Linked DNA regions of Homo sapiens. Changing the gene in region 3 together with the main gene of any one other region gives a genetic interaction. Each region holds a gene or a part of one and is shown on either strand. Other genes may lie near its edges.

The links.
Region 1: of GNA13 (region 3) and ARHGEF12, changing one enhances a phenotype caused by changing the other (phenotypic enhancement), as found in Homo sapiens cells (one study listed by BioGRID).
Region 2: of GNA13 (region 3) and TEC, changing one enhances a phenotype caused by changing the other (phenotypic enhancement), as found in Homo sapiens cells (one study listed by BioGRID).

What each region holds. Positions count from the first base shown.
Region 1 is NC_000011.10:120,483,407-120,492,008, reverse strand, and holds the end of ARHGEF12 (rho guanine nucleotide exchange factor 12), read right to left. Parts: intron 7,572-8,602; coding exon 7,502-7,571; intron 6,943-7,501; coding exon 6,932-6,942; 3' UTR 2,072-6,931; downstream 1-2,071. UniProt on the Homo sapiens protein: May play a role in the regulation of RhoA GTPase by guanine nucleotide-binding alpha-12 (GNA12) and alpha-13 (GNA13). Acts as guanine nucleotide exchange factor (GEF) for RhoA GTPase and may act as GTPase-activating protein (GAP) for GNA12 and GNA13.
Region 2 is NC_000004.12:48,133,288-48,143,420, forward strand, and holds the end of TEC (tyrosine-protein kinase Tec), read right to left. Parts: intron 8,133-10,133; coding exon 8,068-8,132; intron 5,736-8,067; coding exon 5,617-5,735; intron 5,536-5,616; coding exon 5,378-5,535; intron 4,213-5,377; coding exon 4,129-4,212; 3' UTR 2,496-4,128; downstream 1-2,495.
Region 3 is NC_000017.11:65,009,989-65,021,565, forward strand, and holds part of GNA13 (guanine nucleotide-binding protein subunit alpha-13), read right to left. Parts: intron 8,316-11,577; coding exon 8,265-8,315; intron 4,842-8,264; coding exon 4,269-4,841; 3' UTR 1-4,268. UniProt on the Homo sapiens protein: Guanine nucleotide-binding proteins (G proteins) are involved as modulators or transducers in various transmembrane signaling systems.

The DNA.
Region 1 (8,602 bases), on a different chromosome or scaffold from region 3:
AAAGAATGACTGGTAAGCAATCGCCATTCAGACTTGAATATTTGGCAGGTATCTTCTCACTCAAAAATTAAAAAAAGTGAGGCTGTCATTTCAAGGAAAACTGTATTTGTTGCCAATGATAAAATTCAAGATTCCAAGGAAACATTAGAATTTTGTGAAATTTGCATTTACCATGGGACTTTTCTGATATCAGTTGTGATATTAACAAATGTGACTTGATATTTATATAAAGAAATGTGTCAATATTTGGAAGAACTGCATAATTCAGTAAACCAGTATTTTCCAAATGACCAATACAGGATATTACAAAATCATGCATGGGTAAAAGTTACCACTCTTCACATAAATAAAGTGTAAAACGGATCAGTGGATTTTTAGTTTAACAGAGTACAAAAACTTCCTTGATAGGATTTCAGATTCCACACTGCAGCTATCTTTGAAGGAACTATCACTTGCCAAATTTTGTACAGTATCAAAGAAGAATATCCATAATTATCTGAAAAGGCTATTCCAATATTTCTCCATTTAAAAATATGTATCCGTGTGAACCTGGATTTTCTTTATATACTTCAACATACCACAACAGGGCCGGACACAGTGGCTCACCTGAGGTCAGGAGTTCGAGACAAGCCTGGCCAACATGGCAAAACCCCATTTCATGCGGGAGGCAGGATAATCGCTTGAACCCCGGCAGTGGAGGTTGCACTGAGCTGAGATGGCACCACTGCACTCCAGCCTGGGTGACAGAGCAAGACTCCGTCTCAAAAAAAAAGAAAAAAAAATCACAAAAGATTGTGCAGAAGCATACATGAGAATCCAGCTGTATTCTATTATGCCAGACATTAAAGAGATCTCAAAAACTACATAAACCTCAATTTTTAATTGTGGAAAATAGTGATCTTTTCATAAAAATGTGATTTATGTTCACATGTATTTGGGTTTACTATTTTTAAATAAATTCATTTTCCTCATTTCTATTTTCTTTTAAATGTCTAATACAGTAACAATTGATAGCTATAATCCACATGAATACAAGCTTCTCCATGAAGTCTTTCATCATTTTTAAGAGTGTCCAGTGGTCCTGGCCAGGTGTGGTGGCTCATACTTGTAATCCCACCACTTTGGGAGGGTGAGGCTTGCTTGAGCCCAGGAGTTTGAAACCAGCCTGGGCAACATGGAGAAATGTCATCTCTACAAAAAATAAAAAAAAATTAGCCAGGCCTGGTGGTTCACACCTTTGATCCCAGATACTTGGGAGGCTGAGGAGGGAGGGTCACTTGAGTCTAGGAGGTTGAGGCGGCATGAGCCACGTTAGTGCCACTGCACTCCAGCCTGGGCGACAGAGCAAGACCCTGTCTCAAACAACAACAACAACAAGAACAACACACAAAAAAAGATATACATTTTTTAAAAAGTGGTCGTGAGATCAAAAAGATTGAAAAGTGTTGCATTATGTCATGCTATTTGCCTTTAATATTTAAAATAATGATAGCAGAAAAAAAGTCTTTGTACAGATGCCTCCCTGAAAGTTTTTAAAAGATTACCAAAATGTATCCTAATTAGTGTTTTTGATTAGCATGTGTTCAGGCAGCCACAACCCTCTGATCACACGTACAAAGAAAAAGATCCCTTAAAATAAAATGCCTTAAATTACAGGTCGGTCCAAAAGCACTCTAATCAATTGAGGGGGAAAATCTAGAAAGAGAGCTCTACATACCTTAAATGATCTCAAACCAAGGCCTCTGCTGATGCTAAGGGAATGATGATGTCTCACTAGTAAAAATAAGTGGCAAAACAAACATATTCCCTGACAGCTAAAGTTGAGGAAGTGTTTCCAATTAGTAACAAGAATTATCCTTGACATTATAGAGAAAATGGGAAACACCTACATCCAGCTACTTATCTCTCATGCTTTATGACATTTGTCATAAAACATCAAGGAGATAACGAGTTCAATTAAAAAGCAACTTTTTAATCAGGATAGATCCTCTTATATTTGAAGTTGGTAATAAACCTTTGGTAAACCAGTCATTTAGCTTGAAAGAGGGCAGTAAAAAATAGAAGTAACTGCTCACATGCAAATACAGAGTTTTATTGTCTCCATTCCTAGGAGGTGGCTATCAAAGAGCAAGTGGGAATGGTACAGGTATTTCTTTGTTCCACCAGATATGTATCTGTATCTGTATCTATATATATAGATATAGATATATGTTTGTAAACAAAGCCAGGCATACAAACAGGTTAATTTCCGCAAAGTACATTTGAATAGTCTTAATCTTTAAAATGTTTAACTAAAAGATGGTATAAACTACTAAGCATTTTATTACGCTTATTAGCTCCGTCAGCCAAATGTGCCCTTGAATGACTGAAAACTAAAATATTATCCCAAGAATAAGTCAAATTACAAGTATTTCAAAACCAAAATACAGCAAATGCCCAAAGTAAGCGAGCCTTCTGAGCTAAAATGCTGTTGGTAAAAGCACAGAAATGTTGGTATGTGAAGAAGCCCAGCACTGGGGACAGGAAAAATAGAGGCATATGCTTCATTTAGGGTAGGATTAAAACCAAAGTTATCTTCAGGTGCGTCATAAAAGCTGGCCTACCTCACTGAACTTTATACTTAAAAATAGTTACAATAGCAAATTTTGTTATATATATATTTCACCACAATTAAAAATCAATAATATACCAAAACCCATCTGATTATACACTTTAAATGGATGAATTATATGATATGTGAATATCTCAATAAAGCTATTAAAAAAACAACAAACCTGCCCCACATGCTAGGGCAAGCCCACCTGCCAGCACTGTCATGAAGGTTTAGCCTTGTTGCTAGGGATGCTCTAATAAGCAGGAAGATGTCTGACAGTCACTGACAGGAAAATTAATTACAGGCTCCTCGACTCCTCAACTTTTCTAATATAACTTGGACAAGACAAATCAACCAGAATACAAATAAAAAGTCACATGCTTGGTTCCTTTAAGCTTATTTAATATTTGAAATCTTATTTTCTATTTTCCCAGACCCCAGAAAACAGAAAGTTTTTAGATGACCAATATTTTGTTCCAGAAACATACAGCCTTATCAGCTAATTCATAAAAGAGCTATTTTACAAAGGTACATCTGGATAATTAGAACAATAAAGTCTTTTAGGCATTTCAAAATGTGATCAGTAAAAATACATGATTATTAATAAAGTTTTTTTAAAGATAGTTCCAGATATTTTTTAAAAGCAATTTCTGTTAAAGAGTACATGATTGTATGGTGAACAAGGAAAATAAAATGTTCTAGTAGGAAGAGGCTTATTAAAAATAACCAACAGTGTGCACATGACAGTTACCATTTTTGGAATATATCTGCTTAGCAGTTGGCACCTGGAAATGGTGGGGAAGGCTTCCTTCTAGGAGGTACTTTTTTTTCCTACCAATTTATTATCAAAACCCTCAATACCAGTGGGGAAGGCATAAGGAATAAGGCAAAAGGAACTCTTTTCTTGAGGAAAGAAAAATTTTGTAGATGACTCTGAAAAGTGGTGGAAATATCAGGAAAAAAATGACTTATAAAACAAAAATTGTAATATAAGGGGGAAAAACTAGCCATGAGGAAGCTGACTGTGAGGCCCTGCTAATTTTGTATTTTGAGGTCCTATGCACGCAGTTCTCAGTGGTGCCCTCTGTGACATATAGGGAAGGAAATACTGACCAAAGCTCTAGTAATTCAAAACCATATATCGACTTCAGAGAAGAAAGCTTCCACTTTGAAATATGGAAGCCCCACGTATTACACCAAATTTACTAACATCAAAGAGGAAAACAAAGATGCCAGTAAAAGACAATTCACAGGAAGCATAATTACTTTCTTTAGCTTCTAAAAATAATTTTTAAATGGACTTCTCTATTATCCCTCCTAACTCAAAATCAAATAAACAACAACAACAACAACTTTTTAAAAAGGGGATTCATCCTTCATTGGCAGTTGCTGTGGGAAAAAAGAAAGCCAAAAAGCTCATAAAATATACCTCCCATGAAATACAATACATAGTTACAATTTCGGTTCTAAAAGCCAATGTAATTCAAGCAGTCCAAGTTAGGTGATTTTAAAGTATGCAAAATATATAGCTTCGAAGGTGGTAATCATGATGTTAAATTACAGCACTTTGGGGGCTTGCTGATTTGCCTTGATTAACTGTTCTCTGAAAAGGAAGGAGACACTCTACATGTAATTTGCCACTTCATAGCAAAGGAACCATTAAGCCCACAGAAGAGAGCACAGTGTCACAGCAGGTCACTTCCATAGCTAAAATGCAGCCTGCTTGCTCTGGGAAGGTAGCTTTCTTTGTACACCACCCCTGTGCCCTTTAGCAGGGAAGTAGATTTCAACTTCTAGTCACGTCACTTAGAAAAAACTCCTCTGATGGTGACCAGTCTCACTCAAAGACAGACTGCATCTAATTCCATCATCCTGAAAGGAAGATGTCACAACCAAAGTCAAACGGATGTGACTATAATGGCCAAAATGAAATGGAACGTGTGGGAGGCCAAGTTGGGAGGGAAAAGAGAAGTTAGGTCGGTAAGATAAAAAGAACATTCAAAAATTGTGAGATATTTTCAGAATTAGACTTCATCTTGGGGCTTTGTTTGAAAATCTAGATATGAATTTATTTGGAAGTACTAGAGCTATGGTCAAAGTATTTTTCCAGTTAGTCCTGTTAGAGTTCCAAGGAGAAATTGAACTGCAGGGAAAGCAAATAATTACTAAGGACAAGACACTGGCTGAACTAGAGAAACTGAAATTTTGCTAACCTACAAGCTTCTTAATTGAGTGCTAGAGAATTACATAATTACCCTGTAGTGTGTGACGTTAAGAGCAAAGTTTTTATATTTACTTTTCTCCTGATTAATTGCCCTCGATGGTGTTAGTGTCAAGTGGCTACAGGTGTAACCCTTTTAATTGAGAATGACATTATTTCTAGCAGCACAATGTAACCATTTGGTTTTTACTTGTTCCTCCTAAGAGATACAGAAAGTTCCAAATCCCAAACTTCATTTATATATTAGCTTCTGCTTCTAAAATTTTTAATCCCATTCTGAGTTAGATTGTACTTGGCTTATGACTAAAAATATAATTTCAATTTATAGATGAGGTCTAAAGATCCAAGTTGATCCACCTAAAAACACAGATCAATTTAGGACAGAAACAGAAATCTGGACATAGATAAATAAACTTGTTAAGTTGCAGTGGTGTTTATAAAAGTAGGTGGGCATCCCTTACCATTTGTGGTGAAAAAATCATCTTTGGACTGCAGGGAAGCATTAAAATTACATCCTAGCAACCCACAGAGTTCAGAGGGCACCAATGAAAGATGTGAGCAACGGATGAACTCCTTGTTTATTAACAGAATTTACAGACTTCATTTTAGTTGGCAAAAATACTTCAAAAAATATATACCTAATGCACAAGGAAAACCAAAGAAAGTCAATATAATTGAAGGAGTTCTCAAATTACAATTCTGAAACTTACCCTCTGTAGGGTGCTGCTAACGCTACTATTCATCCTAGAGCAGGCAGTTACCAACACCTTGCCTGCAGTGTCCAGTGTATGTGCTGGTCTGCAATTTTTAGGGTCAATCACGGCCCCGTGTGGAAAGAGCTGCGGCAGTGAAGTCAGAGGACGTGCTTCTGGAGCTGGTGTGAGCAGTTCTGCCTTCACCATATCTTTTTCCACTCCACCCTTGGCTATCCTTTTGACTCAGGGCCCTTTGGCACCATCAGTGCAAAAATTAGAGTCAAACCTCCAGGTACTAAAATTTTACTGGCCTTATAATCAGCAGTACCTGTGGCTAATGATAGCCATGATTCAACTCAGTAGTGATTCAGTTAGATAACCTTCCCAAACTCTTTACCCACTCCCATCCCACCCTTTCCTTAGCAACCCCCACCCCTGCCACTATCCGAAGCATTTCCATTTGTTTTTACTTCCTGCTCAATCTGCAGGGACAGTTTTACACAAGTGCCAATGTCTAATGTATAATTATAAAAATGAAATGATACCAAGAATAACAAATTTATAGTCAAGAAAATAAAATTTGCTTTCCTCTCCCACCCAAATCCCAACCCTCAATAGAAAAGACGACAATGGAAGAAAACACACCCATTTTCAAGTGCCTGCTATTTAGTATGTTGAGGATTCCTATTAATTGTGGTTGATCCCAGCTACAGAGAAGAGGTGCTTGCCTCAGGGCGGGAGGAAGCCCATCCACTCTCTGACCACACCACCTGGGCACATAAGAGCCACACGGCATAGCATACCTTTGAGGTGACCCTCAGAGAAGCAGCCTACTGGACAGCAGAGAGCTTGGAATACTGTATAGTGAAGCAAGGTGCTCCTCCCTTCCCCGTCTCACTTCCTCCTCTTCTTAACCTCTCTACCCAACTTCTGCATACTCCATCCTGACCTCTTTGCTTCAGGAGCAGTTGATCCTTGGGTGTACTAAAGACAAAGGTCTAAAACTCTCACTACTCAATTAAAACAAAACAAGGCAAATAAAAATTAAAATGTGCTTTCAAATACGGAATGAAGTCAAATAAATACATCTGATTTTCTCTTTTTCTTAAATCTAAGTACAATTTCATATCCTACACCCAAAGCTCTATACATTTGGTTTTTATTCTGAATCAAAATGAATTTCCGATAGTGAGGAGAGTAGAGTGAGGGAATGGATATTCCCTCACAAACAGATTAGTGCAGCTGCCACACTGTGAAGAACTAGTCCCACTCTGGGCACCTTGGGACTTGACTAATCCCAGGTGGTTCACAGGCAGATCCTCTGTCACACTCTCTCTGCATCCACACTGGAGCCAGGATGTGGTGAGACACGGCCGATACTCCAAATCCAACAACCTGCAGTCACCTCCAGGACATGCGGCTCTAACTTTTATCTGAGAAGAATAAAGATACATGGAAATGATATTAAGAAAAAGAATATACTAACATTGCAAAGAATACCCATGACATCTGTGGGCGTGGTTCAATCTTTGTTTCTGAATCAGTATGTAAGCAGATGAGTATAAACTGCTGCAGGGAACACAAATCCATCTGCAGTCAGGGGAGACACCAGCCACACTGTCAGCAGAGGCAAGTGCACCAACATCCAATAAGGCCAAATCCTCCACACTAGGGAGTCACAGCAGTACCAGTAAGCCTCACACCGAATCTGTGATTTACCAGGCTTCCCACTGCTCTGCCTTCTGCTTTGAAAAGGTGAAAAGAGAGAGAAGAGGGGATGGTATGGGAACTGACAACTGCAGTTCCTCTTAGAGAAGAGTAGAGTCAGCAGGCATGAGCTTCCGCTTGATATCTGATGTTTAGAAACAGGCAGTTCTTTAAAGACAGAAGAGAAATGGAATCTCAGAAGGTTTTCACTTCAAAGTATGATAAGTCATTTCATTCAGTGTAGGATGATTAGTCTAGAGTCTGGAACTCATAACTTTTACATACCTGAGTGCTTGTCTGTGAGGGCTGATCCAGCCAGCCTTTGGCAAAGAATGGTGTAACTTTCCTCCACCTTCTGTGAAATAAAACCCATAGGTTTTTTATTCAAACGTAATGAAACAAAACAAAACAAAAACTTCAGAAAACAGAAAAGAAGCCCTTTTTACATTACAGGTACAAGCCCCCAAATTTCAAAAATATTAACTTCATCATTAAAAATTTCATTAGTGGGAAGAAAAAAGTAAATTTCATTCCTTTTACCAATTTCTCCACTGAAGGAATAACTTAGTATTTTCCCATGTAAAAAGAAAGTAGAGGTGGTAACCATAGATGCAATTCTCCCACCCCCAGGAGTCACCCTGGACATGGTCCCGTCATCATGTGCATGAGCTATAGTCATGCAGCACATAAAGACATGGCGGCCTGCATACATGATGATGGTCCCTTAAGATTATTATGGGTGGGGCATGGTGGCTCACGCCTGTAATCCCAGCACTTTGGGAGGCCGAGGCAGGTGGATCACCTGAGGTCAGGAGTTCCAGACCAGCCTGGCCAACATGGTGAAATCCTGTCTCTACTAAAATTATAAAAATTAGCTGGGACTGGGCGCGGTGGCTCACGCCTGTAATCCCAACACTTTGGGAGGCCGAGGCAGGCGGATCACGAGGTCAGGAGATCGAGACCATCCAGGCTAACATGGTGAAACCCCGTCTCTACTAAAAATAAAAAAAATTAGCCGGGCATGGTGGCAGGCGCCTGTAGTCCCAGCTACTGGGGAGGCTGAGGCAGGAGAATGGCGTGAACCTGGGAGGTGGAGCTTGCAGTGAGGAGAGATCATGCCACTGCACTCCAGCCTGGGCGACAGAGCAAGACTCTGTCTCAAAAAATATAAATACATAAATAAATTAAAAGATAGAAAAAAATTAGCTGGGTGTGGTGGCGGGCACCTGTAATCCCAGCTACTCAGGAAGCTGAGGCAGGAGAATCGCTTGAACCCGGGAGGCGGAGGTTGCGGTGAGCCGAGATTGCACCATTGCACTCCAGCCTGGGTGACAGACCGAGACTCCATTTAAAAAAAAAAAAAAATTTATCTGGGCATGGTGGTGG
Region 2 (10,133 bases), on a different chromosome or scaffold from region 3:
AGGATCTTCACAGATAACAGTGTCTAGGGAATCTTTCTCTGTTCTCCTAAAACAAGCACTTATTTTTAATGATGGTCTTATATTCTATAAAAATATTAAAATAACATCTTCATATGTAGTATTATATATGAGGGAAAGAGACATTTGAGCCAGTGTTCACACTTGACCATGTTCACACTTTTAACCAGGTAGAGACTCGTGACTTTGACTCTTATTTTGGCCTTTACTCAGGCTCTGACTGCAGATAAGAATCAGTTTTGCCTAAATTTCAATTGCTTGGGAAAGGTCCTCGATAACGGAAGTCTACATAGAATTGTGAATAAATACCCCTGTGAAAATAAAGGTTAAGTCTATATGTTTACTTGATAAAGCAGATAATTTCAGAGTATAAACACAGTTGTGTTTTGACTTCTCTTCCTTTTGCCTTAAATATAGATATTTATTTGTGTGTGTGTGTATGTGTGTGTATTTATATATATATAAAGTTGCCCACTGTGATCCACCACTGCTGGAGCAAATCCAGAACTAGAACTTGGTCTCCTGGCCTTCAGCCCAGAGCTCATTACAGTCTCATTCTAAAAACAAGTACTTCATACTGATTGCATTTCTACACACACATATGCAGATTTCTGGACACTCTTTCTGTTTTTCTTTCATTTATGTTCTCAATGCTGAACCTTTATTAGAATTACATCATCACTGTGGTTCTTTAAATAAGAAACAAAACTCTGTCACAACATCTGAGGAAATTATCTTTTAATGTCCCCAAGCTCTATGCCTTGGAAAAAAAAAACTTCCTCTGCTGTTCAAGAATAACAGGCCCCAGAACAAGCCCCAAAAATAAATGACAAAGCCCATCTTACTCACAGGAGGAAAGGATCATGGTAGCCCCTTCTGCGGGGAGCACACAACAGTCTTCAGTTCTTCTGCGGTGCTCTACTCACAAAAACACATCTTTCAACTGAAATCATAGTTCGCTCAAGATGTTTCTCACGGGCAGAGTTAACCCCACCTATTTTCCTGTTCTGAAAACCTCAGAAGAGTATAAATGACAACCAATGGCATATATAAGAAAGCTCAGTAATCTCCATCCCAATCTCTGAGGGTATCTGCTATTAGTCTCTCATCCCCAAAGGTGTGGGTGACTCGCAAACATCATTTTCAAGAAATCACAAAATTTTGGTAAAAGGCACCTTTAAAATTATCAAATCAAACTGCCCTCTCTGGACTGGGAAGGAAATGAAGGCACAGACAGAATAAGGGACTTGCCCAAGGCCACACCGTGAGTGGCAGAAACAATTAGATTCTAGGCTCTGGAATATTGAGTTTAGAATGTTCCATCCTCCCACTCAGCAGACACTTTATTTGGGGGAAGTCAATCTAGTAATAACCCTAAAATGTGATTGGGGGATGGCTGAGAAATATAAAAACACCAACAATACAAAACACACTTGGGAGTTTCACTTCATCCCACTGGAAAGCATAACCATGTGTCAACTAATTAACAGAGCAACTTTAATGAAGACACAGCATATTCTAATCGCCCTTCCAATTTCCTGGTTTAGATTAAGGTCTCCTTAGCATTCTGGGTGATGACTGTTATTTTTACTTCACCTTTTGCCTTTGTTATGCTTTCGTATAAAACTTTTTTTCTAAGTCTTAGTGAAAAATATTTAAAGATTTTTGAAGGAAATGTTGACAAATGTTGCCAGGTGCTATCTATCTTGTTTTCCCATAAAAAGCATACACTGACCATTAGGACAGGGACTCTATCTTCTCCTCACTCTCTTTCATACCACCTAGTACTTCCCGTAGCTCCTCAAGGTGAAAAGGGAAGTATGGGATGGGAGGAGGGAAGGTCAGGAAGGAAGGAGAAAAGGCTGACAGTGATAGTAAGGTAGAGTGTGCCAGGACCGACTCCTTCAATGAGCTACAAGTCAGTTAAAAGTTGTGCATGGTTAGCAACCAAAATGCCCATCAATGATAGGCTGGATAAAGAAAATGTGGTACATATACACCGTGGAATATTATGCAGCTATACAGAATGAAATCATGTCCTTTGCAGGGACATGGATGGAACTGGAAGCCGTTATCCTTAGCAAAGTAATGCAGGAACAGAAAACCAAACACCACATGTTCTCACTTATAAGTGGGAACTGAACCATGAAACACATGGACACAGGGAGGGGAACAACACATACTGGGGCCTGTTGGGGAGGGCAGATGAGGGGAGAGCATCAGGAAAAATAGCTAATGCATGCCAGGCTAATATCAGGAAATATATATATCAGGCTAATATCAGGAAAAATAGCTAATGCATACCTAGGTGATGAGTTTTTGATAGGTGCAGCAAACCACCATGGCACACGTTCACCTATGTAACAAAACTGCACATCCTGCACATGTACCCTGGAATGTAAAAAAAAAGTTGTGCCTGTTTTTGTGATGGGGGTACAGTTAAACAGGTAGACAAGAAGGAATGTGGCAGATTGTGATAAGGCTCGGGATAAGCAGTTTACTTTCTTCCATTATGAGGGGCACAGGAAAAGAATAAACACAGCCTTCAGTGGATGGACTGCCTGGTGCACAGACTCTAGACTGACCAGGATGAAATGAAATGGTTCTCCAGGGTCAGAGTGAAGGCGCTGCCCAGAGCAGCCAGCCTGTGTGTTCACCCAATGCTCCAGAGCAGACCATCGTGGCCTGCAGAGGAGACGCAACTCCTGAAGGGAAGGCGCTGTGTCTTCCTCGGCTAGTTACCCCACCAACAGCAAGAATAACGTGTTGGGCAATAAACGGTCTCTGGATGACTGATACAGTTTCTTTTCGCTGGCGCTCACGTGACCGAGATAGTTTCTTTTCCTTGGCGCTCACAAGGCAAAAAGGAAGGCCCTAATTCCGTTGATGTCTTAGTAGAGCTTCTAAGGGTGAGAAATCCACACACACAGTCTTGACAGCAGGGTCTCCTGAGAGGCTGTACAACAATCCCACCATCCAGGAACCCAAGTCCAACCAGGCCTCCTGAAAAACGTCCGGGAGGCACGGAACACCATGCTGGCTGCTTCTCTCCGTAGCTTCCTGGATCCTCCGCCACAGCTCAGGCTGCTTCCGGGTCCTATGTGAGGTGGGGGCAAACTTTGTTGCGAAGGTCACCTGATCCTTCTGCCCCAGAGCTCAGCACTTCCAATTATAGTGTCTGTGTCCCAGGGAATATTCTTAAGGCTTAGAAGTAGATTACCCGGTTTAATTTTCCATCTGATTCTGATTAGCTGCGGCCACCATGGGCAGGATTACATAGGCCAAATGCACGTGGTTAAGCTGGACAGGCATCCCCAGACACATTTACCTGAGTGAGGAGGGGGCGTTACTCATAGAAGAATCTAGACTTTCTTCTCTTCAGGCATATTTGATGTTCAGGGGGAAATGAATTAACAGCTATAAGGCACAGTCTCTAGTCCTAAGAAGGTGAACTCCTATACTACAGGATTAAAAGTTTCAATTAAAAGACAATTCGTGTTTCTCATAAATATATAACTTTATATATTATATATATTTACAATATATACAGCATACAAATATTGTTCATGTAATACTAAGAGCAGTCTTGAAAACTGAGATGTTTTCAAAACAAAAGATAGGTATTTATTTATCCAAGATGGGTTCCTGATGTATCTAGAACCCAATTGTAGACAATGTCTCAGGCCCAGATTTCTGTAGAAGTCAAAGGGAAAAAGAAGGGTTGCTTGGTCATGACTCTAATACCCTTCCCCTTCCCAAATACCCTGGCCTTCAACTGGCATCAGCTAACATGGTCCCATGTGTGCACCCCTGAATGGCCAAACCCTGGGGCTACACACAGTGCCTGGTAAACAACTGTCACTCAAGTGCCTGAGGAATGAATAGAAATGAGTGATTTTAATCACCATTTCTAAGGCAACATTTCCACACTCTGGGAGATTCTGTCTAGAAGCAAGTCTAGACAGAGGCTGGTCTAGAAGCAAATTATTTATGTGTTTCCACTGTATAAGTAAAATGATCTACATGTCCAAGTGCTCAATAAATTAAAAGCCACAAAATGCCCATCCTTCCTTGTGCTTGGGAATCTGGGAGCCACTGGTCACACATCACTTATCTTCCAAAAGTTTCTTCACATTCAACTAGTTCATCTATTGTGCGCAGCAGATCTTCGAAAGAAGGCCTTCCCTCTGGTTTCTACAATTAAAAGTCAAAGAGAAGCTGTGGGTTCCAGAATCCATTCCACAAAACCTCTCACTGCTCCAACTCCTAAACACAGCATATTACAGAGAGACTTCACTGCTTTGGGACTAGGACATACAGGCATCTCCAAAGGGGTCTTGTCTCTACCCTAATTTACCCTGCATGTACTGCTGCTAGGCTAACGTTTCTAAGACACTGCTTTCATGTCTCTCTTCAAGACCCTGATAGATCTTTTTACTGCCTGTGAAATCAAGTCCTGCAAATTTGTAGGAGCCTCTATAATCTGCCACTTCCCGACCCTCTTGTTACCCAATCTTGTTCCCCACAAAATCCCTCACATGGGCTGTCTGTTAAATAGGGCCACTGTCTCCACTGTTGTGCACACTGTGTTTATAACCACCTCCTTACCTTTGCTCAAGCTGTTCTCTCTCCCTTTAGCACCACTTCCTGCCCAGAATGTCTCTGCCCATCCCAATCAATGCTCTTGGGAGGCAGTACAGCAAGTGGTTGAGACTCTGGGCTTTGGAATCAGACAGGCCTATACTGTTCTGTAGCTAAGTGACCCCAGGCAAGCAGCAACCTCATGACCCTTAATCTTCTCATCTACAGAGTGGCTACAGTCAAAGTATCTCCACCTCAAAGTGTTGTTTTGAGAACTAAATCCAAAACACTAAGTATAGTGCCTGGTACATAATACATGTGAGCTAATGTTACTGTCTTTCAGAAGTCATTTGGTATCTAATCTCTTTTAGGAGGTAACATTTCAATACTTTCAAAGACCTCGGAAAGTTGAGGTTTAGAGAAAGAAACCAACTCTGGTAAAAAAATAATACTTCAACTCTACAAGTGAACCAATGAAAAAAGAGCTACTTATCCAGGCTTATTCCCCAAGTCCCTATCTCAGGCAACCATGGAAGGAGTCCCACTTGGAAGTGAGGAAGCAGCCTGAATGTATCGAGGTAGTTATTAGCATTTTCCACATCTTTACATTCTTCTTCCCGTTATTCAGAACTTGAGTTGAGAGGGTTGGCTTCCTACCTAGAGCTTGAAATCACTATAAAGATGCACCACCTCACTAGGCTATAAAGACTGCATGTTATCCATCTACCAAGCCCAATCCCTAAGAGATTCAAAAAGAAAGCACACAAAAAATCTATACCTCCTGCCAACATCTCAGCATCACCTCATACACATAGTTGGACGCCAACTTCGGCTGGTAGAGTCGGTGGCCTCGAGTAACCATGGTTACCACTTCATAATTGGTGTATTTTTCAAAAGGCATTCTGCCTTCCGTGAATACTTCCCACATTAAAACACCTGGAAAAGGATAAGGATTACCAAATGGATGTATCCACTTTCTCCTCAGGGCGGACGGACATGAGGAAACATGGATCTTACCAAATGACCAGACATCTGATTTGCTGCTGAAGCGGCTGTAATTAAACACTTCAGGTGGACACCACTTCACAGGAAACTTAGCACCAGAAGAACTTGTGTACTGATCATCCAGAACATACCTAGAGTAAGACACACCATGGGTTTACACCTCTGAAGAACAATCTGTTTTTTCTACTTGCTCTTTCATTTTTTTCCCCTTGCAATCAAAAACACAGTTGACTGAAGTCCAACAAGCATCCGGTTGAAGCTAAATGTTCACCTCAGTGGCCACACCTGGTGATTTCCAACTTCCTCTCAGCTTAATTTAAGTGCATGAGATGGATCCATCACCACGTTACCATCTGCACTTTCATTTTTCTGTTTTTCTTTCTTTTTATAAGGCAGTAGAGACAAGGTATCATAAAATAGTTTGCAAGCTTTTCTTTGTAAGCAATTTTGTTCTTTAAATAAAATTTTACCCAAAGGCCCCATATGTAAAAAATCTAAAGCAGAGCTGCTCCAGAGGAAGTGGTATAAAGCATCTAGAAACACACAGGCTTTCAGGCCTCCAATTCCACAGAGCACAATTTAAAACTACAGCATATGAAAATAGCAAATGCAAAAAAACAAAAACAAAAACACAACACAAAATGCCACATGTAAATGGTGGAGTATGTATTTATACATAACATCCCCACATACATACATACACTCAAAACAATACTATATAATTTTTCTATGTGAACATACAATGTCCTTCTGGAAGAACATACAAAAACTGGTAACAGTAGCTAACTTTAGGGGAGAATCCTTGATTAGGGTTGGTAGATGAAAAGACTTCAGCCCTTTCTGTAAGGTGGGCAGCACATATTTACAAAAGGAATGTATCTCTGTATTGTGTGTGAATATACCATTAATTTCTAAAAGGTTCCATGAGAAAATTTTCGAAGAATTGCACAAACATCCTTTGCTATGTAGACAAAGATGGTGACTCGGCACAAAGCCAGCTGCTGGCTGGCAGACAATGCCACTGTGGGCTGGATCAAACTGTCAGCCAGTGGAGTCTGAATTTAGGGTATAAAGAGGTTTTTGAGTGGTTGATACAAAAGTGCAGATTTTCTGAAAGCCTAACATATGAAGATTGAACAGATGAAAGCGGCAGACAGCCTGTCAAATATATAGTATCTGTATATAAAAGCAAATAAAGAGCATTGGGTAATTAATATCCTAAGAGTTGGAAGTTCTGGTCCCATTTCTGACAGTAACAGTTTTCTAATCTCCCTGGGCCTGAGTTTCCTTAGGAGTTAAACTTGGCCCTACATGGCCTGGTCTTTGCCTGCATTTATGAGCATTCCTGGCGCTGCCCGTTGGCCAGCTACCCTGGCGCTTTTTCCGTTCCTTGAGCAGGCCAGACGTGTCCCAGACTTCAAGCTTTTTCACTTTTTCTTCCTACCTGAAATAGTTTATCCTTTTATTTTCACCTACACTGGCTACTTCCTACCTTTTCGTCTCCAGTCAAATCTGCCTATCACAAAGAGGTCATCCTGAACATCAGATCAAGTAGCCACCCTCACTCTTGCCCTGCATCATCATTCAGCACCACCCCAAATTATCTCTATTACAGGGATCAGTCAACTTTTATGTAAAGGGCCAGATAACACATATTTCAGATCTGGCAGGCCATACAGTCCCCGTGACAACTACTTGACTCTGCATCTGTAGCAGGAAAGCAGTCACAGGTAACACCTAAATGAATGAGCGAGGCTGTGTCTCAATCACGCTATTTTTATGGACAGCAACATTGGAATTTCAGATTTTTTTTTACATGTCATAATATTCTTTTCATTTTTTTCATCCATTTAAAAATGTGAAACCCAAATGAGGTTTGGGTCAGACTGACAGCCACAGTTTACCAGTATCGACCATGCTCGATCATGTAACTTTATCAGGTCTTCTGATTCACCCTCTTCCTCAATGTAAGCTGCATGCGGGCAAGGACTTGTAGGTCTTATTCTCTATATGGTTCAGCTTATCATTATGCCTGGCACAGAGCAGGCACCTGATTTTTTATGGGTGGATGTATGGATGAATGAATGGATAGACGGAGGGAGAAGAGAGAAAAAATAAACTAAATACCTTTAAAAGGTATTTTATAATACTATTAAATTATAAAAATTAAGAGAAGAAAAACACTGCAGACATGGACATACTAAGAACCTCACCACCAAATATGTTTTTGTGAAAACAAAAGATTCTAGAAATCTAATCCACACCAGGAAATACAGTGTATTTAACAGGCTATACTACCACCTAGTGGAGAGAATTACTACCATCACAATATATACTTAATTTAATCTGAGAACCAGTTAACAAGATTTCCTTTCTGCTTCATCAGTGCAAATTATTCCCACACTTATTAATTCCACCAAAAAAATGCAAACATCACCTAAAACCACGTATACTTGGACATACCTGGCCATTCCAAAATCAGATACTTTTACAACTCCCGCCTCACTTACTAGACAATTTCTGGCAGCCTGGAAAACAACATTATGATGGTATATTAGTTTAAAAATTCTATCATTTAAGTAGGAAAATGTAAGTTCTATTTATATTAAATTTAGTGTAACCTAGTCAACATTTGCAGAGAGTGGAAACACCCTTTAATAAGTTGTTTTTACCCCTATGGAAGTATTTCCATTGTGTATTTGAAAAAAATGAATAGGCAGGTCAGAAAGTTGTATTTGCAATAAGGCATTATTACATAATCTTTACCAATTGTCTTTTTTTTTTCTTTTCTTTCTTTTTTTTTTTTTTGAGACAGAGTCTGCCTCTGTCGCCCAGGCTGGAAGTGCAGTGGCACAATCTTGGCTCACTGCAACCTCCACCTTCCAGTTTCAAGTGATTCTTCTGCCCCAGCCTCCAGAGTAGCTGGGATTACAGGCACCCACCACCACAGCCAGCTAATTATTGTATTTGTTGGCCAGGCTGGTCTTGAACTCCTGACCTCATCCATCTGCCTCGGCCTCCCCCATTGTTAGGATTATAGTCACGAGCAACCTCACCGGCCAACTGTCATTCTTAAACAAGGGCTAATAGAAGGGTCAACTCACTTTTCTCCTTCCCAGACCTGTTCTTATTAAACTATCCAATTTTCTTACTGACAATGAGAACATCTCTTGAAGTCCTTAATCCGGTTCTCACTAGGTGAGCTTAATAACACACAACCATCAAAATGATGGGCGACCAATCTCTTATCCAATATTTCTGCTCAGTGATTGGTCATCTCATCCCAGTCAAAGAACAGGCTGGGTGCAGTGGCTCACGCCTGCAATCCCAACATTTTGGGAGGCTAAGGCGGGTGGATAACTTGAGGTCAGGAGTTCGGGACCAGCCTGGCCAACATGACAAAACCCCTTCTCTACTAAAAATACAAAAAAAATTAGCCAAGTGTGGTGGCACACAACTGTAGTACCAGCTACCTAGGACTGGAGGCAGGAGAATTGCTTGAACCCATGAGGTGGAGGTTGCAGTGAGCAGAGATCGCGCCACTGCACTCCAGCCTGGGTGACAGAGCAAGACTCCGTCTCAAAAAGAACAGCTATGTGTAAATACAGTTTGCTTTTTCATTTATGTTCCCAGTATATTATAACATGATGTACAAAATTGGTCAAATACAATTGTGGATTATTTAATTTATATTTTCTTGCATGTTCTTCAAGGTTACAAGGTTTAAGAAAATAGTTTGATAGAAAGACGTGGTATTTCTCAAAAGGAAGACAAGAATTTTTTTTTAATTTTTTAATTTTTTATTTTTGAAACTGAGTCTCGCTCTGTCACCAGGCTGGAGTCCAGTGGTGCGACCTTGGCTCACTGCAACCTCCACCTCCTGGGTTCAAGTGATTCTTCTGCCTCAGCCTCCCGAGTAGCTGGGACTACAGGCGTCTGCCACCACGCCTGGCTAATTTTTTTTGTATTTTTAGTAGAGACAGGGTTTCACCATGTTTGCCAGGATGGTCTCGATCTCTTGACTTCGTGATCCGCCCGCCTCGGCCTCCAAAAGTGCTGGCATTACAGGCGTGAGCCACCACACCTGGCCGATAATATTTTTAATACCATAACCCATAGACCAAGATATGTTTTTCTTCCTGACTGTTCATAATTCTATTTTCTCTATGTGGCAATTCCACTCATATGAGGTTCCTTCTTGCTGAGTGCATTTTAAGAGTCTTATAAAGTGAGAGTTAATATCCATTCCCTGGACTGCCTGCATCTTCCTATGAAAACACTTCACAACTCCACAATGCCTGCACTGGATGGTCAACAGGATTCTTTACCAAGGAGACAAGAGCATCCAAAGTTTCCCATAAGGGGTGACACAAACCTACCATAGTAATACCAATATCACAGGCACAGAAATGTAAGAATCGTTTTTGCCAAAACATCATCTGTGTGGACAGGTGTAATCTGCCACACCCACGTAGATACTCAGTTTTTATCAGTTTTATAAGGACATCTATTTTGTTCTTAGTTCTTAG
Region 3 (11,577 bases):
TACTCTGATCCACCTGTAAACTTTCATCATCAACAGCAGATTTGTATATGTCACAAAACTCTCCTTATCAAGACATAAAATATTGCCATATCATTCATGCTTTCAAAACAATGTTCATATAAGCTCTCGCATTTGAAACCAGATGGTAAGACCTGAATGCTACAAGAGTGAACATAACTTAAATGCTAACTACACGTTCAAGTACAGACATAAGAATGCTAGTGGTACAAACACTGTACTCCAAATGATGTTGTTAATCACCTACCAGCCTAAGACTAGTATCTACTTGATGGAACTTGAAAAAGCCATAAAGTCCAACTTGTTTAAAATGTTCAGACTTAGACTTACACTTCAAGATCTAGTATACATTTATTAATAAGCCCTAACCTCGTACCATAAAAAAATGGGCATGTGCTGTATTTGGGACATGCGGACACACCCACACCCACCCACAATCTCTCCCCTCCTCATGTTTACTAGACTGAAAAGCCACCCTGTATCCTATCATTAAAAAACAAAACAAAACAAAACAAAACAGTGCTTTTAGTCAAGCAGCACAACACAAGGACAGATCATCTGTGATTAACAGAAGCGAACGCCTTAAAATGATGGGAGAGAGACAAATTAACTAGGTACTAAGTCAGATTTCCAAGTGAAAAAGACATGAGCAAAACTTCTGGTCTTAATTTCTCAAATAAAACTAAAATAAATGAAATGGTAACAGAGTGACTTTCTCTAAATTTATTAGGGAGTTTGTTACAAATGTTTGGGCTTTACAGGCATGATTTCACGGATTCAAACAAGAAATTAACACTGATATTTAGCCTTCTCATGACATACACAGAAATAACATTGCTACAAACTGCAATGGAGAGAATCTTGTTTCAAATGGCTTAGTTTGGGGTTTTGTCTAAATGTATCATTATATAATGAAAGCACCAATTTGAGGGTTTCTCAAATAGTGATTTGAATTTTAGGACATAACAGTGTAACATGGTAACTTTATTCTTCATATATAAATAAGGCATAATCGGATGTGTATTAATGCTGAAAATACATTTTATCAAAAGCATAAATACAAGTATTTGGGTACACATTGAAAGTTAGGACTTAACCAATTTCTTCTTACAAAAAATGATAAGGACATATGGTATTTGTTGAATCTAAATCAGCACTTCTAATCATTTCTGGTATTAAGGCGATCTTATTTCCTTCTACTTTAAACCAACCACTGCCACCAACTGAATAAGGATTTCCCTAAACAGCCTCAATTTGAGAGACTAACCAGAGGACCTTCTCTATGCAAATTACATGCCAATACACCTTAAAAGAAAATAAGACAAAAGTGAATGAGTTTTTTCATTCCATATTGCTTTCTTTGGTTGCAGAGCAATCCAGTGCCCTTTCCAGATAATAAAATTGAAATGAAGATTTCAATTTAATATTTGGCAGACAGCAACAATGCAGGTTATTAAAAATATTAAAGGGGCAGAGGCATGCTTTGAATTACTCAGATTTTCAGAAAACATTTGACAAAACCCTTTCTCTATAAAAGTTATGGTCTAAATTTATGTTGTTTTATAAGGCAACTGTATATACATTTCTTCAAGGTCAATGAAGACACTTGTGTGATATTTCCTCAGAATTAAATGAGAAGGCATTCAGATTTAAGAACAGAATGTAACACAGGATTAGGCACATTTTATTCCAAATCATAACCATAAAGATTTAGAAAATCAAATACATCAAAGAACTTTAAATCTAAATTACTTTTTTAGAGACTGGGGTAAGTTTGCATAGTGAAATTATGAGCACCTTTTCAATTCTGTTCACTAAATTTCATCTCTCTCTTCATATAGTGGTATTTCAAAAGGATTCAGTTTTCATGATACAGGTGTAAGACTCCTTTCAAACGTTTTTAAAATACAACGTATAAAAAAATGTGGACTGAAGCCTTTAGATTGAACTTAAAGTTCTACTGAATGTCAAAACAAGCCTAAGTTGAATATAAGTAATTCATTGCCTCAAAATATAGTCTAGATTTTAAAAGAATGTTGATTCTGAGACATTACATGCAGCAGGGAAGAAAACTGCAAATGCCCAAAATAACATGATATCTATTTGGTGTTTCAACACTTCTTGGTGGTAATTCAAAAGGGGGAAACTTGGTGATTTCTGCTTTGTCAGGCAATATCTATGGTTCGTATCACAGATCTTAACTATGACTTAAGTAAGATGAAGTGTCCTCTTTCTATAGGGATCTAACTTGAGCCCTCACTGGAGTCAAATGTTTTGGCCATTCAATTTGCTAAATGTATGGGTAAACTCTCCAATGAATAGTCCAAATGTTACTGTGCACATATTCCGATATTCATTAGCACTGCAATTATGCTAATTTTGTGAATTTAAACAATGTATTCTTTTTGGCAAGAAGCACTAGATGTAGAACTATTCAAACACGCATGAATGATACCATGATACCACGAACATGCACGATACCATGAACTTGCATCACGGTGCCGGGCTACGTATGTGTAGCTCATGGATTACCATGGCATGAAAATGCTAGAAGTTATATGGATACAATGATAGTGGAAGTTCAAATGTGAGAAAAGTCAGGTATGTCAAGAACAATCCCTGGTTAGTTCACTGAAAAGCCCCACTCTCGTATCAGACAGCAAGACAGAACAACAGCCACTGACTTGGAAAGGCTGGGTGATCCATAACGACCAATCTTTCAAGGACCAATAAAATACCTGAGTACACAGTCAGCTATACAGTAAAATGACAGATATCACAGTCTTAAAATTTTCAGGAAAAGTAGAAAAGCTGTCAGACTTTTCAAGCTGTCGCCAGCCTTGGACTTCTGTTTCTCTAATTGTAGCACTACATACAGCCTAGAAGATAGTATTTCAGTACTGCAAACCAGCCATTCTGATGAGTTCACTATGAATGTATCTGCGATCACAAAGCTACTTCGTGGACACATTTTAATTTGGTAAGCAGTCGGGGGAGGTCAATGTAATCATCTTTAGGTGCGAACTAAAAAAATTACTACTGATCCTTAGAAGCATCCTTAAAACATTTAAAATATACCTCAAAAAAGCTGGACTTTCAACAACAACAATTATACAAATGTATACATACTGTATCTGTTAGAGACACACCAAGAATGAACAGGAATCTCAAATAATGCCTTCTTGAATAGTCTTGACAGAAAAATACTGCCCTTAGCAAACTCCAAATAAACAAAACGATGCCACAAATGGCACAGTGTGGAGTTGATGGGACTGGACAGGACAGCAAAAGATAGATGTTTGTGATGATACAACAATGATTTCCTACAGTAAGGATTGGTCTTTACTGACCAACTGAGATAGGGCTTAAAAGTCAAATACATGACATTCTGGAACAGGTTAAGTTTATTTAGAAAGTTCTGTTACCAAGTTGCTTGCAGTTTTTAGTTGCTGCTATGGCCAGAATGTTTCACATATGGTACATTAAACTACATGATAATTAAATATGAGAAAGGCAAATTCTATTTCACTCGTTACGTTTGACCAAAACACGGTAAACAGCATTAGCTTGCCTTTTGCTCTCCCATACCACCTGTGAACTCTTCATCAGCATCAGACCAAAGATCCTTATGTAAACTTGAAAACAGGAAGAACATTACCTTCAGAAACACAGAAATCTAAAAGCAAAACAGCTGTTGTGTATACAAGCAATTAAAATATGAAGGCTAAACCTTCTATAAACCTACAGAATGCCATTTCTTAGATAGAACTTCTAACAGCCCTTACAAAATAGGAGGTCACCATAAAGTTAGGCAACAAGTGTCACTGCTATATGTAAGGCGGACAGAAGATATCTTGTTTTGGAACTGAATATTCCTAACCTCATCCCTACAAGTATTTAAGGACACCTTTGATACTTGGCACTGCAGGAGAATTCAGTTTGGAAAGTAGAATAATTTAAAGCCTGAAATATGCCTAGTCTGAGGTCAGCTGGGAGGTTTTAACTGGACTTGAATAGAAGCCATGGTGAAACAGATCAAAGCCTGCATTACAGCAAATCTTGGCGATGAGTCACTCAACAGCTTTCAGCCACAAACCAAAGGCCGCAGAAAAAGTACTAAGATTTTCAAGAAGTTAAACGTAGAATTAAGATTGTTCTAATTCTGGTTGTAAACTGCTATTTTAAAAAACAAAACAAACAGAAAACATCAAAAACACAAAAAGATATTAAAACAGCAAGTCTTTTGTACATCACTGTAGCATAAGCTGCTTGAGGTTGTCATGCAGAATAGTATCCTTCACGTCACGGAAAACAAGGCGGATGTTCTCCGTGTTGATAGCAGTGGTGAAGTGGTGGTATAAGGGCTTCTGTTGCTGGTCCCGGCGTTTGTTCCGGAAACATTCCACCAGGAATTTTTGGACGTCTCTTAAGCAGTGGGGATCCCCTTCAAATTCTAGGAAATAGTCTTTGATGCTCACAATTTGCACCTTCTCCTCAAGCAAGTCTGTCTTGTTTAAGAACAGAATTATGGAGACATTGCTGAAAACCCGGTTATTGACGATTGTTTCAAAAATGTTCAGAGACTCTGTAAGGCGATTGGTCAGTCGATCTTCCATAAGCACCTGGTCAAATTCACTTGAGGAAACAAGGAAAAGTATTGATGTCACACTGTCGAAACATTCAAACCAACGTTTCCTTTCTGATCTCTGACCACCTACATCAACCATTTTGAAAGGAACATTTTTTATTTCAAAGTCGTATTCATGGATGCCTTTGGTGGGTCTTCTGGCAAGCAGAATATCTTGTTGTGATGGAATATAATCCTGGAAAAGAAAAAACTTGTTTTATACCTATTAATCCCGAAGTAATGCGAATTTTTAATGGACTACTAACTGGACTAGTGAATAGATATGCAAACAAAATGATCTTTTAAGTGACATTTTCAGATAGATTATGCTTATTATAAAATGCCAAGACTGGTCAGACATGGTGGGTCATGCCTATAATCCCAGCACTTTGGGAGGCTGAGGCAGGAGGATCGCTTGCGAAGCCAGGAGTTTGAGAATATCCTGGGCAATATAGCAAGACCCACTTGTGCTCCCCACAACAAAAGCCAAGATACATTAAAATGTTAGCAGGACGGGTTCAAAATTTACTACAAATGGCCAGAATCTACTTGTTTTCATCCCTGCAATACTACTCAAAATTTAAGCTGAAGTCTTATCAATTGTTCTTACCCACCCTCACTGCTATATATCCACCTGCAATCTTACTCCCCACTATCAGCCACTCTTGGTTCTAGCCAGAGTGATCTTCCTGTCTGCGTATCTACCTTCTCCACACTGCTCCTTGCTCCTCTATTAAAAGCAATGGGGGCTGGGCGCGATGGCTCACGCTTGTAATTCCAGCACTTTGGGAGGCCGAGACGGGCAGATCACGAGGTCAGGAGATTGAGACCATCCTGGCTAACACAGTGAAACCCCATCTCTACTAAAAATACAAAAAAATTAGCCAGGTGTGGTGGCGGGCGCCTGTAGTCCCAGCTACTTGGGAGGCTGAGGCAGGAGAGTGGTGTGAACCCAGGAGGTGGAGCTTGCAGTGAGCTGAGATCATGCCACTGCACTCCAGCCTGGGTGACAGAGCAAGACTTTGTCTTAAAAAAAAAAAAAAAAAAAAAAAAGGCAATGGGATCTGATTCCAGTGCCAATTCACAAGGATCACTTCCCAGTTCCAAGTTCTGCCCACCTCTCTCTAACCTATTCTAAAAGTTCTTTTACTGTGCAACCCCACTCATGACTTAAAACTTCTATGTTTTCATTGCTGCTATATTACATGTGTGAAAAATCCTTTCTCTACTATAATTAATTTCTTACTTATTGACCCAAGAACTCAAACTAGTCACTTACTCTGAGTGTCAGCACCTCTGTCTGTGAAATGGAGGTGATCACACTTGGTCTATATACCTGGGAGGGAGGGTTGTTGCAAGGATCAAATGAGCTCTTCTCTGCACTCTTGGTCAGTGAACTCTAAGACCCTGAACAAACAGAAGCTGCTGGTCACACAAGTCTCTGGCTACTCTGTGATGGCACACTTCCTTATGCAATGTAACTGGTTCTTCCTTGTCAGTCTAGCATTTTTCCAAAACTACAACACAACTTTCTGGTAATACATGAACGGGACAGCTAATATTTATCATCAAGGTCAAAATATTTTAAAAATCAAGGCAGGATTTAAAACAATGCTGTTATTCACAATGCTGCACTTTATGCCTTTCTGAATAGTGTCATATGATTTTGAAATTTCATTACAAGAATACTCATTGTCTCAAAATGGTGCAATGGAATTAAGAATATATATATATACATATTTTTTTGAGATGGAGTCTTGCTCTGTTGCCCAGATTGGAGTGCAGTGGCGGAATCTCGGCTCACTGCAACCTGCGCCTCCCAGGTTCAAGCGATTCTGCTCCTCAGCCTCCCGAATAGCTGGGATTACAGGTGTGCACCACCACGGCCGGCTACTTCTTTGTATTTCTAGTAAAGACGGGGTTTCACCATTTTGGCCAGGCTGGTCTCGAACTCCTGACCTCAAGTGATCCTCCCGCCTCAGCCTCCCAATGTGCTCGGATTATAGGCGTGAGCCACTGCACCCGGCCAGAATTCAGAGTTTTTTAAAAGTAGGTGGGTTCTTAGTTACTGGCAACCAACAGCCATTCATTAAATAACTCTAGGACTCAAGTGTTAGCTTTTCCATGTTTTCTTCTAGCTTTGTTCAGATACACGCCTGCTTTATTTATAATCAGCATATGCACACAGCGTTCAGCCTACCTCTGCATTTTTGCTTAATATTTTGTGAACTGTTCCATATGCTGATACAATCATACCTCATTTTAAAAGACAAGAAAATACACCAAATGCATTAACGTGCTGTACTTTACATTAACATTCCCCTACTAGTGGTCATTAAGGTTGTTTCCAATTTTTAGCCATAATTAACAGAAATACTGCAATTAAAATTCTCATGCACATTTTTTTTTTCCTTTGGACTATTTCCTAAGATTAAAATAATCAGGGGTACGATTATGACGTTAAAGGTTACAAACATTTTAATGACTCTGGATACTTAACACCCGACTGCTTTCTAGAAGGCAATACCAATTTACAACATACACCTATGCCAGCTCCTTCAGAAACACGCCGGGCCCTGAGCTTTTAAAAAATGTAATTCCATAAAAATAAAAAGTTCTCTATTATTGTCTTTGTCTCTATTAAAGCTAATAATCTAGTTAGCAATCTAAAGGCTGCTTCACATGAAGCACAGAACTTCATGCAATCGAGTGCTAAATAGTCTGGCAGAGCAGAGTATGTTGATGAGGACACACACATACTAGCTGTGTGAAGAAGAAGAAACCTGCCTTATGAGGAGGCAAATGAAGCTGTGCTACATTTAGAGAGTAACAGATGACTCTAAGGCAATGGCTTTCAAAATTTTCCTAAGCAGCAGAAACCTTTCTCCCACTGAACTCTTCTGTGTACGCCCAATACAGAGGTCAAACAAGCGAGATGCTCTGCCTGCAGTGGGCCCCGCTGGCCACAGCGCCAGCTTAGAGCTGCTGGCTCCGAGGAATACCTACAGGAAAATGATAGACTCTCTTTTCAAGGGCGACTCCCCCTACCTCGTGGAGTCTCTTCAGCCTTTTAAATCTAGCCCTCCTACTCCGTGACTCGACACAAAGGGGGCATGAATTCGAAAATGTCATTTGTCAAAAGATTTGGAAATCAGTCAACCCACTGTGTTCTATTTCTGTTTACAAACAAAAACCTCTAAAGATACTAAAGTATAACAGATAATGCACAATATCATCTTCAAACACAAACTTCTTTCTCTAAACAGTTTTACTTCCAAGAAATAGCAGACAAAGCATTCCTCAAGAAAATGGTAGAGACCTGGACAGTTAGAGGGAGAAAAAAGAAGTGTCGTGATTAAACAATAAAAATACTTTCATTTTGAAAAAATAAAAATCATTCAATATTCTGAGCTACCAATCACTCTAAATAAAGCAGAGAAGAATCAGAACGCCACCACTAAAAAAAAAAAAAAAAAAAAAAAAAAAAAAAAAAAAAAAAAAAAAAAGAGAGAAAGAAGCAAATAGCTTAATACATAATTTTTCTAAATTTCCTAACATCGATATCCTGACTTCTGCTTTCAAATGGCACTAAACATAAACATTTGGTTTAAACACTTACTGGTTCTCCAAGTTTATCCAAGTTATCCAGGAAATATTTTACAGATTCACCCTAAAAACAAGAAGAAAACAAATAGTTATTAGGGCTTAGAAATGGAAGATCTTGTTACAACAGTTTACATCATACTGTCTGGTTGTACACTTAACCCAAACAGACTTTGTTTAGTCACCAATTTCAGACAGCTAACCTTCCTAAAAACATATAAAACGTCTGCTCTGTCACAGACTGCTAAATCTGCAAAGGCAGGCTGATTTCACAAATGCTTAATAGAATCAATATCCCAAGTGATCATCTGCTTGGACAGGATTACACGCATGCTTTTTGCTATAACTACGTATCCACAGTGAAGACATATAATTAGAAGATGAAAACTGCTTTTGAGATAAAACATAAATCTACATATAAAATTTAAGTGACAGTCTTTTTGTCTACATTTTCTAGCTTAATAGTGACGATAGTTATCTTCAGAGACAAACCAAACCAGAGATGAGGTAAGAATACTGTACAAAATCCCCCAACCACAGGCATGGACAGGCGTGCCTTGCTCAGGAAGGCCCTGGATAGTGCTGCCAGCTTCACATCTCCAACAGGTCTTTTCCCGAGTGGCCTATCCTTTCTGAGCCCAGTTTTCTCGACGAAACTTCCAAGCAATTTCAAACATCTAAACTGTACGAGAATACATTCCTAACATGAAAACGCTTGACCAGAGCACACAGAGAAGAGGGGAACTATTTTGGGAAAGAAGGGGTCTGTGTCCGAGTCTCCTAGTCCTCACCCCCTGCGTTTCACTTTCCCGCGGGATTCTACAGCTGCAGCATTGTCCCTGCCTGAAGCTACTTCCAAGTGTTCCTGAAGCAGCACCTCATTTAGTATGCCTGGGCATCATGTGAAGATCTCCTCACACTGCAGGCTCCGGTTTAGTAGGTCTGGGTGGGACCCCAGTTTCTGCAATTCAAGGAGTGCCTGGGACCACACTTTGAGTCACAAAGCTTGAAAGTAGCAGTTCTATAATTTTTTGGTCTCAAGATCACACAATATGATCCAGCAATGGCACTGCTAGGTATATACCCAAAAGAAAGGAAATGAGTATATGGAGGAGAGAGATATCTGCACCCCCACGTTTACTGCTGCACTCTTCACAAAAGCCAAGATTTGGAAGCAGCCTAAGTGTCCATCAACAGATGAATGGGTAAAGAAAATGTGATACACATACAGAATGGTGTCCTATTTAGCTATAAAAAAGAATGAGATTCAGTCATTTGCAACAACATATATGGAAGTGTAGGTCACTATGTTAAGTGAAGTAAGACAGACACAAAAAGACAAACATTGCATGCTATCACTTATTGGTAGGAGCTAAAAATCAAAGCAATTGAACCCATGGAGATAGAAAGAAGGATGGTTACCAAAGGCTGGGAAGGGCAGCAAGGGTTGGGGTGGCAGGAGGTGGGGACGGCTAATAGGTACAAAAGATAGTTAAAGTGAATGAATATGGACCAGTATTTGATAGCACAACAGGGTGACTATAGTCACTAATAATTTAAGTGTACATTTAGAAATAACCAAAAGAGTATAATTGGATTGTTTGTAACATAAAGGATAAATGCCTGAAGGGAGAGATACCCTATCTTCCATGAGTGATTATTACGCATTGCATGCCTCTATCAAAACAGCTCATGTACGCCAGAAATATATGAATCTATTATGTGCCCACAAAAATTAAAAACAGAAAAATTAAAAAAATAAAAACGGAAGACATGGAAACAAATGATGATGTCTCTGGACTCAATAAGCTCAACAGCTTCTGATCACTTCTTTTTGTGTTTAGTGTCCTCATTCAAATTTTATACAAAGCTCAGTACGAGGCAACTGGTATCCTCTCCTCCTACCTTCCTAAAGTGTCTGGCAGATAAAATATGAATTACTGGGAGGAAGTTACCCTTCAATATTTTTTTCTTAACAATTTCAGAAGTGATCAAAGTCTTCTTGTTTTCTAATATTAATGTTAAGGAACAGATGTGAATTTCAGTCCTTTCTCTAACAAGGAGTGATCTGGCCAAGTCTCTAAACTCCTCCAGGTCTCCATTTCCCCCAGAGTTACATGAAGAAGTTCAGTGGTTCAATGGATAACCAACCGCTTAAGTTCTGCCCTGTGCAACAATTTCAGTTAGTTCCACTGATTTCAAGTTAAGTTCTCCTTTCCTCATAGGCCATGTGTTTGTTAATCCTAAATCTGCTTTTGTTGTGACTCATTCAAGCGGTGTTGCTTCCACGTTCTTTGCTAATAAATAAAGGATTTAATGTATTGTGCAAGAATATTATGGGTTTAAGACTCACTTTTTGCTGGTTGTAACTTGAGGCTCTCATATTTTTCCCAGTTCATTTTATGTTACTGAAGGGAATTTTTTTTTTTTTTGAGACAGGGTCTCAATCTGTTGCCCAGGCTGGGGTGCAATGGCGCGATCTTGGCTCAATACAACCTCCACCTCCCGGGTTCAAGCCATTCTCCTGCCTCAGCCTCTGGGGTAGCTGGGATTACAGGTGTGTGCCTCCGCGCCTGGCTAATTTTTGTATTTTTAGTAGAGACAGGGTTTCCCCATGTTGGCCAGGCTGGTCTTGAACTCCTGACCTCAGGTGATCCACCCGTCTCGGCCTCCCAAAGTGCTGGGATTATAGGTGTGAGCCACCATGACCGGCCTGGAAATTTTAAAAATAAAATTTCAAAGAAATTTCATTTCACAGTTAACACTTTAAAAACTTAAGATTATTTTATTCGGCCCTTAGCTCTTTTTTCTCTGTTCAGAACACTACAGGTAAGTTTCTAGGTTACTGTAGTAAGGCTGAAGAGTAAAAGTAGCATGGCACTCTGAAAAGTGTTCCAATATTTCTTTAGCCTTGTGGATATTTCAGTTCCATTTAAATGGCATAGCAGCCAGTGTACCTGGGTTCCAGCCCCAAGATAGACTTTATTACTGACAAAGTCAACAAACAATATTAGGTGAGCTTCAGTGACCCTTTGAGTATTAGAAGTCTATGAGGTTCCACGAACCATATTTCTTACGAGTTTTACAAAATGGTGTCTAAGCTGGGAATGGCTTCAATGTTGCCCCCACTTCACAACAATAATTTGTTATAAACATCCTTTGCTTGTAAAGACAAAATGGGTCTGGAGTCCTAAGCTTGAAGGTAACAGAAAAGCTAAGAACAAAAGTTAGAAAATAATTTCTATTAAATTCATAGTCATACAGAGAGAGGCTTAGCAGCTTATCGACCCAGTTACTGAACAAGTGACATTTGTATTCAATGCTCTCTT